Homo sapiens: one gene and its partner. The protein of the gene in region 1 interacts with the protein of each later gene in a biochemical or structural test. Each region holds a gene or a part of one and is shown in the gene's direction. Other genes may lie near its edges.

Region 1 (7,025 bases):
GTGTGCACATGTGTCTGTGTGTTCCATCGCTGCAGTCCTGTGTGGCCCTACCTCAGGGTGTGTGCATGTGTGTCTCTTGCTTCTTCCACTGTGTCTCCAAGTGTGTTCAAGGGCTAGTGTATGCATGTGTGCATGAGTGTCTCTCACCCCACCTTGAGCTCAGCCATCCTGGGGTGGCACCCTACCCATACCCGGCCAAGTGTTTGGGGAGAAAAGGGCTGTTGGTTCTAGGATGTGCCAAGCATTTGTGCAGGGCTTGACCTGACCCTCGGTCTGCCCCCAGGAAGCTCCGTGTGCCCAGCTGGGGCACAGCCCCAGCTGATGCCCCAGAGGGGCCACCCATCGCAAGAGGGGCTTTGGGCTCTGCCCTCCCTCCCCATGGCGCATGGGCCAAAGCCTGAGACTGAAGGACTGTTGGACCTCAGCTTCCTGACAGAGGAGGAGCAGGAGGCCATTGCTGGCGTCCTCCAACGAGATGCCCGCCTGCGCCAGCTGGAGGAGGGGCGGGTCAGGTAAGGCAGGGCAGACCCTGGCCGGGGAGCACCAAGAGGCTTGAGTGGCCCCCATCCTGCTCCCTACCGACACCACTGCCTGTCAGATGTCTGCGTGGTTCTTGGTTTTGCCCTTCAGTCTCCTCTGGCCTTGGCCAGCTCACAGCTCATCACTTCTCCAGGGGTGACTGCACCAGCTTTCTCGCCAGCCTCCCTGCCTCCAGGCTTGCCTCTTGGGCCCACCTCCTGCAGCTGGTGCTCCCCAGATCTGTCTGCTTTTTTTTTTTTTTCTTGAGACAGAGTTTCATTTTTTCGCCCAGGCTGGAGTGAAGTGGCACAATCTTGGCTCACTGCAACCTCCACCCCTCCGGGTTCAAGCGATTCTCCTGCCACAGCCTCCCAAATAGCTGGGATTATAGGCACATGCCACCATGCCCAGCTAATTTTTGTATTTTTAGTAGAGATGGGTTTTCGCCATGTTGGCCAAGCTGGTCTTGAACCTCTGATCTCAGATGATCCACCCGCCTCAGCCTCCCAAAGTGCTGGGATTACAGACGCGAGCCACCGTGCCTGGCCAGATCCGTCCTTAATATCCCCGCTGAAAACTTCCCCTGGCTCCCCAGTATCAAGGGCAAGCTCCTAGGCATGGTCCACTGGGCCTCCCTGGTCGGTCCTTGCCAGCCCCCACCATCTCCTCTTTCACCATAACTCCGACCCGACACACAGACACAAAGTGACCCCTCCAGCCACTCAGGTGCTCCCCAGTCCCTGAACCCACTCTTCACTTCTATGCCTATGCTGGTACTTCTTCCTGGAAGAGCACAGTTGTAGAAGAGCATGGGCGTTACAAGCAATGTTTGGGGACAGACACTTCCTAGCTACGTAGCCTTGGCAACTCACCTGACCTCCTTGAGCACCATGCTCGTCGTCTGTAAAATGGGGCTAAGGAGTCCTACTTCACTGATTTAAGAGGAATTGGCCAGAGATAGTGGCAACGCCTGTAATCCTAGCACTTTGAGAGGCTGAGACGGGAGGATTGCTTGAGCCCAGGAATTCAAGACCAGCCTGGACAACACAGTGAGACCCCATTCCTACAAAATATAAAAAATTAGCCTGGCGTGGTGGTGTGCGCCTGTAGTCCCAGCTATTTAGGCAGCTGAGGTGAGAGGATTGCTTGAACCCAGGAGGTCAGGCTGCAATGAGCCATGATCATGCCACTGCACTCCAGCCCGGGCAACAGAGCAAGACCCTGTCTCAAAAAAAAATAATAAAATTAAAAGTATAATAATTATTATCCTTCTCTACCTGGAGAGTTCCAATTTGTCTTTTAAGAAGAAATTCAAGGCTGGGCACAGTGACTTACAACATTGTGGGAGGCTGAGGCAGGTGGATTGCTTGAGTCCAGGAGTTAGAGACCAGCCTGGGCAACATGGAAAAGCCCCGTCTCTACAAAAAAATATATAAAAAATTAGCTGGGCATGGTGGCACACGCCTGTAGTCCCAGCTACTCAGGAGGCTGAGGTGGGAGGATCACTTGAGCCTGGAAGGTGAAGGTTGCAGTGAGCTGAGATTGCGCCACAGCACTCCAGCCTGGGCATAGAGGGAGACTCCATCTCAAAATAATTAAGTAAATAAATAAATAAAGGCAATTCAAATGTCACCTCCTCTGGGAAGCCCTCCTGGATTCTCACAGGCAGAGCTGGCTCTTCTTACTTCTATCACATCATCCACCTCACTACAGTGTACTTGTCTCTTCTGGACTTGGTCTCCCCAGCAGCCCGAGCTCCTCCACAGCACAGATCAAGTCTGATTTGCTGTTGGGTCCCTGGCCCCTGGTCCCAAGCCTGTTAACAATGTAGGTGGCGGGAATGTTGCTTGGGTGAGTCATGACAGCCACACCCTCCCCCTTCCTCCAGCAAGCTCCGGGCCTCAGTGGCAGACCCTGGGCAGCTGAAGATCCTGACAGGGGACTGGTTCCAGGAAGCACGCTCCCAGCGGCACCACAATGCCCACTTCGGCTCTGACCTTGTCCGAGCGTCTATGCGCAGGAAGAAGAGCACCAGGGGTGAGAGGAGATCCTCGGGGCAGGGCAAGCCATGTGCCGTCCAGGGCGCTGGCTGTATGTGGACAGGGAGAGAGGACCACTAGGGCTCCAGTCCTGGCTGCCCCCAGTACTGTGTGTCTTTCAGTGGGCAATGCCCCTCCGTGGGCATGGGGTGGGTGGGTATCTCCCAGGGCCTCTCCCGAGTCACAGCCAGGCTTCCTGAGCATGGGGGCTCACAGAACTTCTCACCTGCGCCCAGGAGACCAGGCTCCAGGCCACGACAGGGAGGCTGAGGCTGCTGTGAAAGAGAAGGAAGAGGGGCCAGAGCCCAGGTGAGGAGGAGTCTCAGGAAGGGGGAGATGGTGCCCACCAGTCACCAGGGTCCCTCCCTCTGAGAGCGTCCTCTCCCTACTCCTAGGCTCACCATTGATGAGGCCCCTCAGGAGAGGCTCAGGGAGACTGAGGTAAGTGAATGAGCCAACATGTGAGTACAGTGTCCCTGGAGGGGAGGTGGAATGTGCAGGGGGCAGGGGGGAAAGAGCCCCAGCCTGGGAATGGGGAGACCCTGGAAATGTTCCTTCCTGTGTCTGCACCTCATCACCTCCTGGGTGGAACAGTGGTGAACGGTGGGGAACGGTGGTGAATGGTGGTAAACAGTGGTGAACGGTGGTGAACAGTGAGTGGTATATGGACCCAGCCTCTAAGGGAACTTCTGAATCTGGCTATTAAGGGGTGAAGTGGGGCCAGGCACGGTGGCTCATGCCTGTAATCCCAGCATTTTGGGAGGCTGATGTGGGAGGATCGCTTGAGCCGAGGAGTTCAAGACCAGCCTGGGCAACATAGCAAAATGCCCCCCATGTCTATAAAAAATAAATAAAAAAAAAAGGCCGGTCGTGGCAGCTCACGCCTATAATCCCAGCACTTTGGGAAGCCGAGATCACCTGAGGTCAGGAGCTCAAGACCAGCCTGACTAACATGGAGAAACCCCATCTCTACTAAAAATACAAAATTAGCTGGGCATGATGGTGCATAACCTGGAATCTCAGCTACTGGGAGGCTGAGGCAGGAGAATCGCTTGAACCCAGGAGGCGGAGGTTGCAGTGAGCCAAGATCACACCATTGCACTCTAGCCTGGGCAACAAGAGTGAAACTCTGTCTCAATTAAAAATAATAAGAATAAATTTAAAAAAAGAAAAAAGGTTGTCTACCAATGGGTCAATATAAAAAATAAAAATAAAAAAAGGAGTGAGAAAGGAATGGGACTGGCCTGGCCTGGCAGAGGTGGAGGACTCAGGTACGAATGACCCCACCAATGGGAGTAGGGAGTCAGGCGGCACAAGCCCTGCGGGGTGGGCTGTGAAGCACTGGTCTCACCGCTCCTGCAGCTGGCTGCCAGCCCTGCCCGGAGGGCTGCCCTAAACCTGAAACTGGGGTAGCTGGCTGGAGCCCTATGACCTCTGACCCCAATATGACCTTTGACCTCTTCCTCACCAGCCCCCGTACTGTGACCTCTACCCCTTTCTTCCTTCAGGGACCTGATTTCCCATCGCCTTCTGTCCCCCTAAAGGCTTCAGATCCTGAGGAGGCGTCCCAGGCCCAGGAAGGTGAGTGGGAGCGCCTGTTGGGGAGCACGGAGAGGTTTCGCGGGTCAGAGGCAGCTCTAAGGGGCCCCAACCACCTGTGTTCACCCTCGTCACCCCCACTCCCACCCCGCGTCGGAGGTGGGGACGATCCCAGGGCAGCACCGGGGCCTGAATCTGCAGCTCGCTGGGGTTGTAAACCAGTTCCTACAAATTTGCTTAGGGGAGGGCAGGAGAGGGCTCGCTTAGCATCTCGTGCCCCACCCCAGATCCTGGCCAAGGAGACCAACAGGTCTGTGCCGAGGAGGCTGACCCGGAGCTGGAGCCCGCGTCGGGGGGAGAGCAGGAGCCGCGGCCCCAGCAAGCCCAGGTAGGCGGGAGTGGCCCGTGGCTGCTCTCAACATCCGGAGCGGACTCCGGGCGGGGAGCGCTCCTGCCCAGGGCTGCGAGCCGCCCGCGACCCAGGGCGCTCGGGGCAGGGGTGGGGAAAGAAGGGGCGCCCCGTCACTTGCCCCCTCTGCAGACCAAGGCCGCGTCCCAGATCCTGGAGAATGGGGAGGAGGCCCCGGGGCCCGACCCCTCTCTCGACCGCATGCTCAGCAGCAGCTCCTCGGTGTCCAGCCTTAACTCCTCCACGGTGAGGCGGGAGGGAGGGGACCCGGGCGGCCGGGGGGTGGACCCGTTCCGATGCGTAGCCCCTGCCTGCCCCTCCCTCGCCGCGGGACCCACCGCTGCAGCCCCCCAGCCTGCCACCTATGACCCGGGTCTGAAGCCTCCGCGCTGCCCGCGGCCCCGACGTGAGCCCTGCGAGCGGCCCTGACTCCCACCCACTCCCGTCCGCAGCTGAGCGGCAGCCAGATGAGCCTGTCAGGCGACGCGGAGGCGGTGCAGGTCCGCGGCTCCGTGCACTTCGCGCTGCACTACGAGCCGGGCGCCGCCGAGCTGCGCGTGCACGTGATCCAGTGCCAGGGCCTGGCCGCCGCCCGGCGCCGCCGCTCGGACCCGTGAGTGCCCCGCCGGCCAAGCGGGGCGCGGCTGTCACAGCCCAGCCCACCATTCACAGGGTCTCGGCCTCCTCGTCCTCATCTTCAAAATGGGAACAACAGCGTTATTGGGAGGCGTGCGATTAAGCGAGACAATCCCTGTAAAGCGCTTAGCACGAGGCCTGGCACGTGTTCGGGATGGTGGCTGGGGGAGCCCACAGGCAGGGGAGAAGGCTCTGGGAGGGCCCCTCCTCACCTCGGGTTCTCACCTCCCCAGCTACGTCAAAAGCTACCTCCTCCCGGATAAGCAGAGCAAGCGCAAGACGGCGGTGAAGAAACGGAATCTGAATCCGGTTTTCAACGAGACTCTCCGGGTGAGGCTGTGACCACGATGCGGTTCCCCGTTAATGAACTGGACGCCCCCTTCCTGCGGGGCTAGGTGGCAAGGGCAGCCAGTAACGTCATTGCCCGGAGGATCGGCGGAGGGGGCCCATTAACTCGTTATCCAGTGTTGTCAGCCTCGTGGTGGGCGTGGTGATAGTGCAGGTCCCCATTAATGCCCTTAGGGGCTCCCCAGAATTCCATCATGGTAGGAACGCGGTAGGACCTGCCTCAGCCAACTCGCGCAGCATCTACGCGGGCCACCAGCAGTGCTCCACTAAAGCTCACCTCCTGTCCTCAGTACTCCGTCCCGCAGGCCGAGCTTCAGGGCCGCGTGCTGAGCCTGTCTGTGTGGCACCGCGAAAGCCTGGGTCGCAACATCTTTCTGGGCGAAGTTGAAGTGCCCCTGGACACGTGGGACTGGGGCTCTGAGCCCACCTGGCTCCCCCTGCAGCCCCGGGTGAGGCAGCCAGGCCGCGTGGGGAGACCTGCGGCCCGGGTCTCCTGCATTTACCCCACCAGGCTCTCCCGCAGCCCCCTCACACCCCGCCTTCGACAGAACCTCCCCTCAACCTCTTAACCTCATGGCCCCAGGCGAAGCCCGGCCGGCCACGGCCCCTTCCCCGAGGGCGCTAGGACCCCTAGGTTCTGCCCCTGCAGGCCCCGCCGTCTCTTCTAGCCGCACCCCATCCGGGTCTGCAGACCCCACCCTCCTGAGGCCCCTTTCCATTAGCCCCTGCTCCACGATAAGCCCGCCTCTCGCAGGTCCCACCCTCTCCCGACGACCTTCCGAGCCGCGGGTTACTCGCCCTGTCCCTCAAGTACGTCCCCGCCGGCTCCGAGGGTGAGTGACAGCCGGAGAGGCCAAGCTGGACACGCCCTGAAAAGCGGGAGACTCCAGTCCCCGGGTTTGGGGGCGGTGGACTCCATCCGTGTGCGGGCCTGAGCCGAGCCTCTCCGCAGGCGCAGGACTGCCCCCGAGCGGGGAGCTGCACTTCTGGGTGAAGGAGGCTCGGGACCTCCTGCCGCTGCGGGCAGGATCCCTGGACACTTACGTACAATGGTGAGGAGTGCTGGCCCTCCGGGCTTCCCATTCTTTTGCCTGCAGTGGAGTGCCCAACCTCCACAAACCCTTACTAATCAACCTTTGATCACGCAGCCTGGGCTTTCACCACTGAGCAGGGGTGAAGGGGACGGTTTGAGCAAAGGCCTGGAGTCAGGGAAGTTGAGGACACCTTTGAGGAGCTGCATTTCAGCGTGACTGGCGCCTATAGGACTTGTTGAAAAGCTGAGGCTGAGGGCTGCAAGGGTCCTTCCATAGAGAACCTGGGAGGCCAGGCTGTGGGGCTTGGCTGGGAACTTATAGTTCAGTGTAAGCTTCTAGGGGACTTCTAGGGGTGCCTCCAGGTGCTGCCCCCACTGTTAGAGAGTGAAATGGAGGTGGGCGGGTCACTTCTGGGTGTCCACTCTGATGCAGCCAGAGGCTGCAGTACAGAGGTACTGTACTTCTGAGCAACACTGTATTTTGCAGAGGGGGTTCCCAGGC
Region 2 (7,025 bases), about 160 Mb from region 1:
ATCACTTGAACTCAGGAGTTCGAGACCAGCCTGGGCAAAATAGAGAGATGCCACCTCTATACAAATAAAAATAATAAAATGAGATCTGCCTTAGAGCTTTGAATCAGAGTGGGCCTTGCCAGCCACTGCTTCTAAACTGCTGCTACTCCCTCCCTCACACTTCAAAAGTCTGTCCTTCTGCCAGGCCTAGAGAGCTGTCTTTGTCAGATCTGAGCATCCCTGTAAGTGACTCAATGGCAGTGGAGACTGTCTGTCTCTAGACTGTGCAACCAGTTGTATATGAGCTCAGCCCTCCCTGGTCAGTCACCATATCCAAATGCTTTGAAAAGCTTCAAATGCCTTGCAAATGAGAAGTGGAATTTTTCCTTTCTCAATGCCCTCTGCAGTGGAGACAAGAGCTCAGTCCTGCCCCACGGCCAGTGGATTTCCAATATGGCTGAAAGAGTTGCTAAAGCGGCAAGGGCGTTTTAGCGGGTTAGGATTCTTCTTTCTACTGTGATTTTCATTTTCATCAGGCCAACTCCACCTCCTCTTTTGGCCAACATTTCCTTCGTCTTCCCCAAATGTCACTACCATTCCAACTTTTAGGACGTTATCTGCATGTGGCTCCTTTACATGGGGTCTCTGTAGGGGTGTTTCCCCACATCCACCCCTGCCTGGGAACTTTGAATGAAGGTTCTGACCGTCGCTCCCTGTTGCCTTCAGGAGGAAAGCTCTCCGCAGTCCGACATCCCAGCTCCTCCTAGTTCCAAAGCCCCTGGAAGACCCCAGCTGTCACCAGGTGAGTGGTCCTGGAGCCACAGCCTAGGTCTGGGTGCAGCAGCATGCCAGGCTGCTTCCTGAGTTCCTCTCCCTGCCTTCCAGGAAATTCTGGTTTCTTCTTCTCCCAACATGTCACTCAGCTAATGACCACGCAGCCCCAGAATCCCCCTTTCCTGCACCACCCACCCCAAACATGAAATCAGTGCCCTCTCTCCCTGCCTTCTGCAGAACACTCACGGGGCTTGGGTGAATGCAGCTGGTTCCTGAGTGACTCACGTAGTCACCAAACCCCTTGATCATTAGGTAGGGAAACGATGTCTCAGGAAGAAAAGTTGAAGTAACTATACCTGCTTATCTCTGAGGGGCATGGAGTGGCTGTTTTCAAATGTCTGAGGCACTGTATCTGGAAAAGAAATTGCTCTGTGGAGCCCTGAGGATGAACAAAGAACCAATGGGCAGATGTGAAATGGAAATGTTCTCTCTGAAAGGCTGTTTCCTAGTGTGGAGAGGGCTGTCTTGGGAAGTGCACTTGAAGCAGATTCTGGATAAGCGCTTGGTAGAGACGCAGAGTGAGTGGTTGGCCAGATTCTAGATCAATGATTGCCACACGCGCCTGATCATCAGAATCACTCGGGATGTCCCTTCCCCCATTTTTATTTTGAAAAATGTCCAACCTACAGAAAAGCTGACAGTAGAATACAATAAACATCAGAATATCTTTCACTTAAACTCACCAATTGTTAACATTTTGCACCATGAACTCGCCCTGCTCCATTCTATTTTTCTCCCCCGAGCCAGTTGAAAAGTTACAGACTCGTGACACTTCACCCTACACAGCTGCAAAAACGCAGTCTCCTGCATAATCACAATAGAATCATGGTATCTAGGACACTAAACATTCATATGATAGTATTATATAATGTATATTCCATATTCAAATTTCTCCCGTTGCTCCTGCTCAATGTCCTTGACAGGTTTTTTGTTGTTATCTTTTGTCTAGAGGCTCATCAAGGATCACATATAAACCTAGGATGATTTTGTGAATACAGAGTCCTAGGCTACTGGCTCTGATATTTTAGGACTGGAATGGGGCTCGGGAATTTGTATTTTAGAAAAAAACTTCCCATGTGATTCTAATGATCAGCTAGGTTTGAGATCAGTGGCCTTCTCTGATCATGTACCCCCTATAGTAAATATCTTTATGCATGCTACTCTTACATAAATTAGATTAATATTAGATTGCTTGATTAATAGATTAGATTAAATTAATAAACTTTAGGAAACATACACAAAAATAAAGAATAAGGTGAGGATCAGTGGTTCTAATACTTCTTCCTGTGGCCTCTGGCTCACCTTGCACTCCGATTTTCATTGCTTTGGATCCCGTGGGCTTAATTGACCTTTGGGATCCCTGCTAACCTTGTGGGTTGGTGAGGATATGCTGGTCCTTTGGTAATTACCTATAGGCTCCCTAGAAGCAGAGACTGAGTTTGTTCATGTGTTCATGACCTTCATGCTTCCCCAGGGCGAGATTTTCCCCACAGTTTACTAAGGTTAATAATTGCCCCACAAATTAAAGGGTAAGAGGTTGGGGGCCCTATTTGAAGAGGTTTCATCTGTGTGTGGCAGGGGCTGGCCAAGGATGTTCATTCACCATCTTCTTTTGTTTTACTCCCTACTTTTTCCATTCAGGCCAGAAACAAAAAGAAGAGCCTAAGGTAACATTTTTCCCTCATACTGTTTCAAGTGGTAGAAGATGGGATAGCTTGGGCTATCAACCACAGACATGTCTGTCTGGATTATAGGAAGAGCCCCAAAGGGAGGGTCGAACCAGTTGCTACCTTACAGAGTCCATGAGCTAGGGACCTTCTTAATAGCCTCCTCCACTATCATGCACACACTTCCTACTACCCAAGCTAGTGGGCCAGATCTTACTCAGTAGGAATTCCTGTCCAAGCAAGGGTTGGGCTAAAGGACCTCTGAAGGCCTTTTAGGCTACTGTGAAACCAGTTACTTACTGGCCTCTCCCCTGCTGTATTGGGTACCCCCTGTGCCAAATCACGAAACTGCGGTGATCCAGGATGTTGAGAGAAAGCCTCAGACACTCAGGAGTTCCCTTTGTTTCCTCCCCACTCAGGAAGTGAAGCTCAGTGTTCCCATGCCCTACACACTCAAGGTGCACTACAAGTACACGGTAGTCATGAAGACTCAGCCCGGGCTCCCCTACAGCCAGGTCCGGGACATGGTGTCTAAGAAACTGGAGCTCCGGCTGGAACACACTAAGCTGAGGTGAGCTCCATGCAGGCAGCTGTGAGGGGTACAGTGGGAACCTTGTGCTGGCCTGGAGGAGGGAAGAGGAGGATGGTTTTTGTGATGATGTTCTTTGACTGGATTCTTACTCATTATCCCCACCCAGCTATCGGCCTCGGGACAGCAATGAGCTGGTGCCCCTTTCAGAAGACAGCATGAAGGATGCCTGGGGCCAGGTGAAAAACTACTGCCTGACTCTGTGGTGTGAGAACACAGTGGTGAGTGCAATGAGGGGCATCTAAAGTTACATTTCCACTGAGCCACTTCCTCAACAATTTGAAATTTATCAAGCACCTTCTGTGTACTAGGCACTATATGTGGTGTTGGGGATATGGTGTGTAATAAGTCACAGCTCTGCCTCCCTTTTACCTGCATCCTCACCCCATTTGCAGCAGGGAGAGAGTTTCCCACAAGAGAACAGCAGGCCCAGCAGGGCAGGAGCTCACAGAAAGCCTCCTGCCCCTCCATCAGCTCCCTGCCTGACTGTGTCAAACATCCCATCCATTACTGTCAAGCAAGGTTGGAATGAAGTCATATCATAGCTTAAGGCTCAGCTCATAGCCATTCTTCACCTTTTTTTTTTTTTTTTGAGATGGAGTCTCACTCTGTCGCCCAAGCTGGGTGTGATCTTGGCTCACTGAAACCTCTGCCGCCCAGGTTCAAGAAATTCTCCTGCCTCAGCCTCCTGAGTAGCTGGGATTACAGGCACCTGCCACTGCACCCAGCTAATTTTTGTATTTTTAGTAGAGACGGGGTTTCACCATCTTGGCCAGGCTGGTTTTGAACTCCTGACCTTGTGATCCACCTGCCTCGGCCTCCCAAAGTGCTGGGATTACAGACATGAGCTGGGAGAAGAAGAGTGAAAGAGAATGAGCCTAGAAAAGGGCAGTGTATAAAGCTGTTTAAGGTATCTTCCCCGTTCAGAAAATTGCCTTCAGGAAATACAGCCACTGGGGATGAGACTCCCTGGTGTCTCTGGCTGAGACAAAAGGCCCCAGGATCCTGGGGGTAAGAGTGAGTGTGAGTGTAAGGGGTCTCTTGGAAGTCTGAAAAGTCACTCTAGGTTTTCCAGCTGTCTGTCTTTGGACTAACCCCTTCAGCATCTTTTTTAAAAGATTCTTCCTAGAAGGAGTTCTGCTCTAAATGTGAACTACTTCACTTAAACTTTTTTTTAATTAAAATTTTTTCCTTTGACAGCAGCTTCAATCTATTTGGTGGCTGCACATAGCCAACCCTCTTACAACTCCCCACAATCTTTTGCAATTTAATCCAGGCTCAGGAGTCACTGTTGAATGTTCTTTATCACTATCCATTACTTTTGGAGGCAACAAAGCAGGCTTTCACTTACTAGGAGAAAGAAAACCAGGCGCAGTGGCTCATGCCTGTAATTCCAACACTTTGGGAGGCTGAGGCAACATGGTGAAACCCCATCTCTACTGAAAATACAAAAATTAGCTGGGTGTGGTGGTGTGCACCTGTAGTCCCAGCTACTTGGGAGGCTGAGGCAGAATTGCTTGAACCCAGGAGGCGGAGGTTACAGTGAGCTGATATCATACCACTGCACTCCAGTCTGGGTGACAGAGAGATTCTGCCTCAAAAAAAAAAAAAAAAAAAAAAAAAAAAAAAAAAAAAAGAGGCCTGGTATGGTTTATGCCTGAAATCCTAGCACTTTGGGAGGCCGAGATGGGCCAGATCACCTGAGGTCAGGAGTTTAAGACCAGCCTGGCCAACATGGTGAAACCCCATCTGTACTAAAAATACAAAAAAAAAAGAAAAGAAAAGAAAGAAAAATAAAATGAACTAACATTTATTAAGCATCTACTCTATGCAGGAACACTTACCATTAACCAAGTCTAAATATTTATACATATTTAGAAGAGTACTGCCACAGAGTAAGTGTTCAATAAATGTCAACTACTATTATTGTATGTCATCTCATTGAATTCTTCTAGCCTCAATTTCAGGTGAGGTAACTGAGGTTCTGAGAAGTTACACTGCTTGCTTAGGGACACAGAGCTGGTAAGCAGTGGAGGTGGGATACAAACCTTTCTCTGTGGACTCTCTAGGGCCATTTCCACCTCATTGTATTGCCTCTCAATAAAAATATACCAACGTTCAACAAACAACATTAAGAAGCTAGAACTTATAATGCTCGGTACATACAAGCCTAGCAGCATTTCTAATGTTGATTTGTTAAATTCTATGATTCACATCTGTAGAAACCGCATCCTTCTCCTTCATTTGTGAAGCAAAAGTGACAATAATGTGGAAGAAGTCTAAGATCATAAGTCTAAGATGTATAAGAAATGTTGTTACAGATAAAACAAGTATGGCATTGTGCAGTGGTTTTTGAACTTTAGCAAGTATCAGAATTCCCTAGAGGACTTAAAATACAGATTGCAGGATTCACCTTCAGGGAGTTTCTGATTTAGTAGTTTTGGGATGGAGTTGAAAGTCTGCATTTCTAACAAGGTCCCTAGTGTTGCTGTTAGAGTTGATGCTAAGAAAGCCAGTTTTGACTTAGGGCTCTGTCCCCATCTGTAAAGAAATAATAATGCCCATTCTACCTGTCTCAAGATTATTGTAAGGTTTCAGTAAGATATTTTAAGACTGTATATGATTTTGCAGACCTTTTGGTTTCATTTATCCCAGGGGTCCCCAACCTCCAGGCCACGGGCCAGCACAGGGCTGCACAGCAGGTGAGCTGCAGGTATACTGGCCTGAGCTCTGCCTCCTGTCAGATCAGCAGCAGCATTAGATTCTCATAGGAGTGTGAACCCTATTGTGAACTGTGCATGCAAGGGATCTAGGTCGCATGCTCTTTATGAGAATCTAATGCCTGACGATCTGAGGTGGAACAATTTTATCCTGAAACCACCCCCCAACCCACCACCCACCACCATTCATCTAAAAACTGTCTTCCATGAAACTGGTCCCTCGTGCCAAAAAGGTTGGGGACTGATTTACCCAACCATCCAGTATTCATAAAGAGCATATAAGCTCTACACAAGGCACTGATCACAAACTTTATGAGTTTATATCCCAGGTTCTACTTTGACATTTCGCTGTTTCCTTTAGTGATGTTCAGTGTTCACTTGGCAGGAAATTGGGAAAATTAACAGGCCCTTTATTATTTCAGGGTGACCAAGGCTTTCCAGATGAACCCAAGGAAAGTGAAAAAGCTGATGCTAATAACCAGACAACAGAACCTCAGCTTAAGAAAGGCAGCCAAGTGGAGGCACTCTTCAGTTATGAGGCTACCCAACCAGAGGACCTGGAGTTTCAGGAAGGGGATATAATCCTGGTGTTATCAAAGGGTAAGTGCTACTCCAAGACTATAGAAACAAATTTACATGTTAGCAGAAACAAGGTCAAGGGCAGAGAGAAGAAAATATCAATAATCTACAAACAAAACTTTAGCCAGTGTTTTCAACCCCCTTCCTAGCATCTAGCTGGAGGGAGCAAAGTTGAGCACTCAGACTTTCCCTGTCTATTGCTCTAGTAGCCAGGAAAGCAACAAGAAGCTGAGTTGTTTTGTTTTTGTTTTTGTTTTTGAGACAGAGTCCCCCTCTGTTGCCCAGGCTGGAGTGCAGTGGCACAATCTCGGCTCACTGCAACCTCCCCCTCCTGGGTTCAAGCAATTCTCCTGCCTCAGCCTCCTGAGTAGCTAGGATTACAGGCGCCCACCACCATGCCTAGCTAATTTTTGTGTATTTAGTAGAGATGGGGTTTTGCCATGTTGACCAGGCTGGTCTCAAACTCCTGGCCTCAAGTGATCCAACTGCCTCGGCCTCCTAAAGTACTGAGATTACAGGCATGAGCCACCGCACCTGGCCGGCGATAAACATCTTGATTATTAAAGAGGAGTATGCTTTGGAAACCATGGATTCTCATTCCCAGAGGTAACAAATTGGGCTGGAATCACTTTGCCTTTGCATCAAGCTGTATGACCT

What was found. The genes of interacting proteins can lie anywhere in the genome.
Region 2: the proteins of SYTL1 (region 1) and NCF2 form a complex in vitro, tested with the Homo sapiens proteins (one study listed by BioGRID).

The regions. Positions count from the first base shown.
Region 1 is NC_000001.11:27,345,014-27,352,038, forward strand, and holds part of SYTL1 (synaptotagmin-like protein 1), read left to right. Parts: intron 1-283; coding exon of another isoform or gene 284-321; coding exon 322-512; intron 513-2,407; coding exon 2,408-2,556; intron 2,557-2,791; exon of another isoform or gene 2,792-2,794; coding exon 2,795-2,867; intron 2,868-2,953; coding exon 2,954-2,999; intron 3,000-4,066; coding exon 4,067-4,139; intron 4,140-4,384; coding exon 4,385-4,485; intron 4,486-4,638; coding exon 4,639-4,752; intron 4,753-4,958; coding exon 4,959-5,119; intron 5,120-5,375; coding exon 5,376-5,472; intron 5,473-5,780; coding exon 5,781-5,939; intron 5,940-6,244; coding exon 6,245-6,323; intron 6,324-6,442; coding exon 6,443-6,542; intron 6,543-7,025.
Region 2 is NC_000001.11:183,559,460-183,566,484, reverse strand, and holds part of NCF2 (neutrophil cytosol factor 2), read left to right. Parts: intron 1-705; coding exon 706-781; intron 782-2,454; coding exon 2,455-2,480; intron 2,481-2,899; coding exon 2,900-3,051; intron 3,052-3,178; coding exon 3,179-3,290; intron 3,291-6,211; coding exon 6,212-6,389; intron 6,390-7,025. UniProt on the Homo sapiens protein: Subunit of the phagocyte NADPH oxidase complex that mediates the transfer of electrons from cytosolic NADPH to O2 to produce the superoxide anion (O2(-)).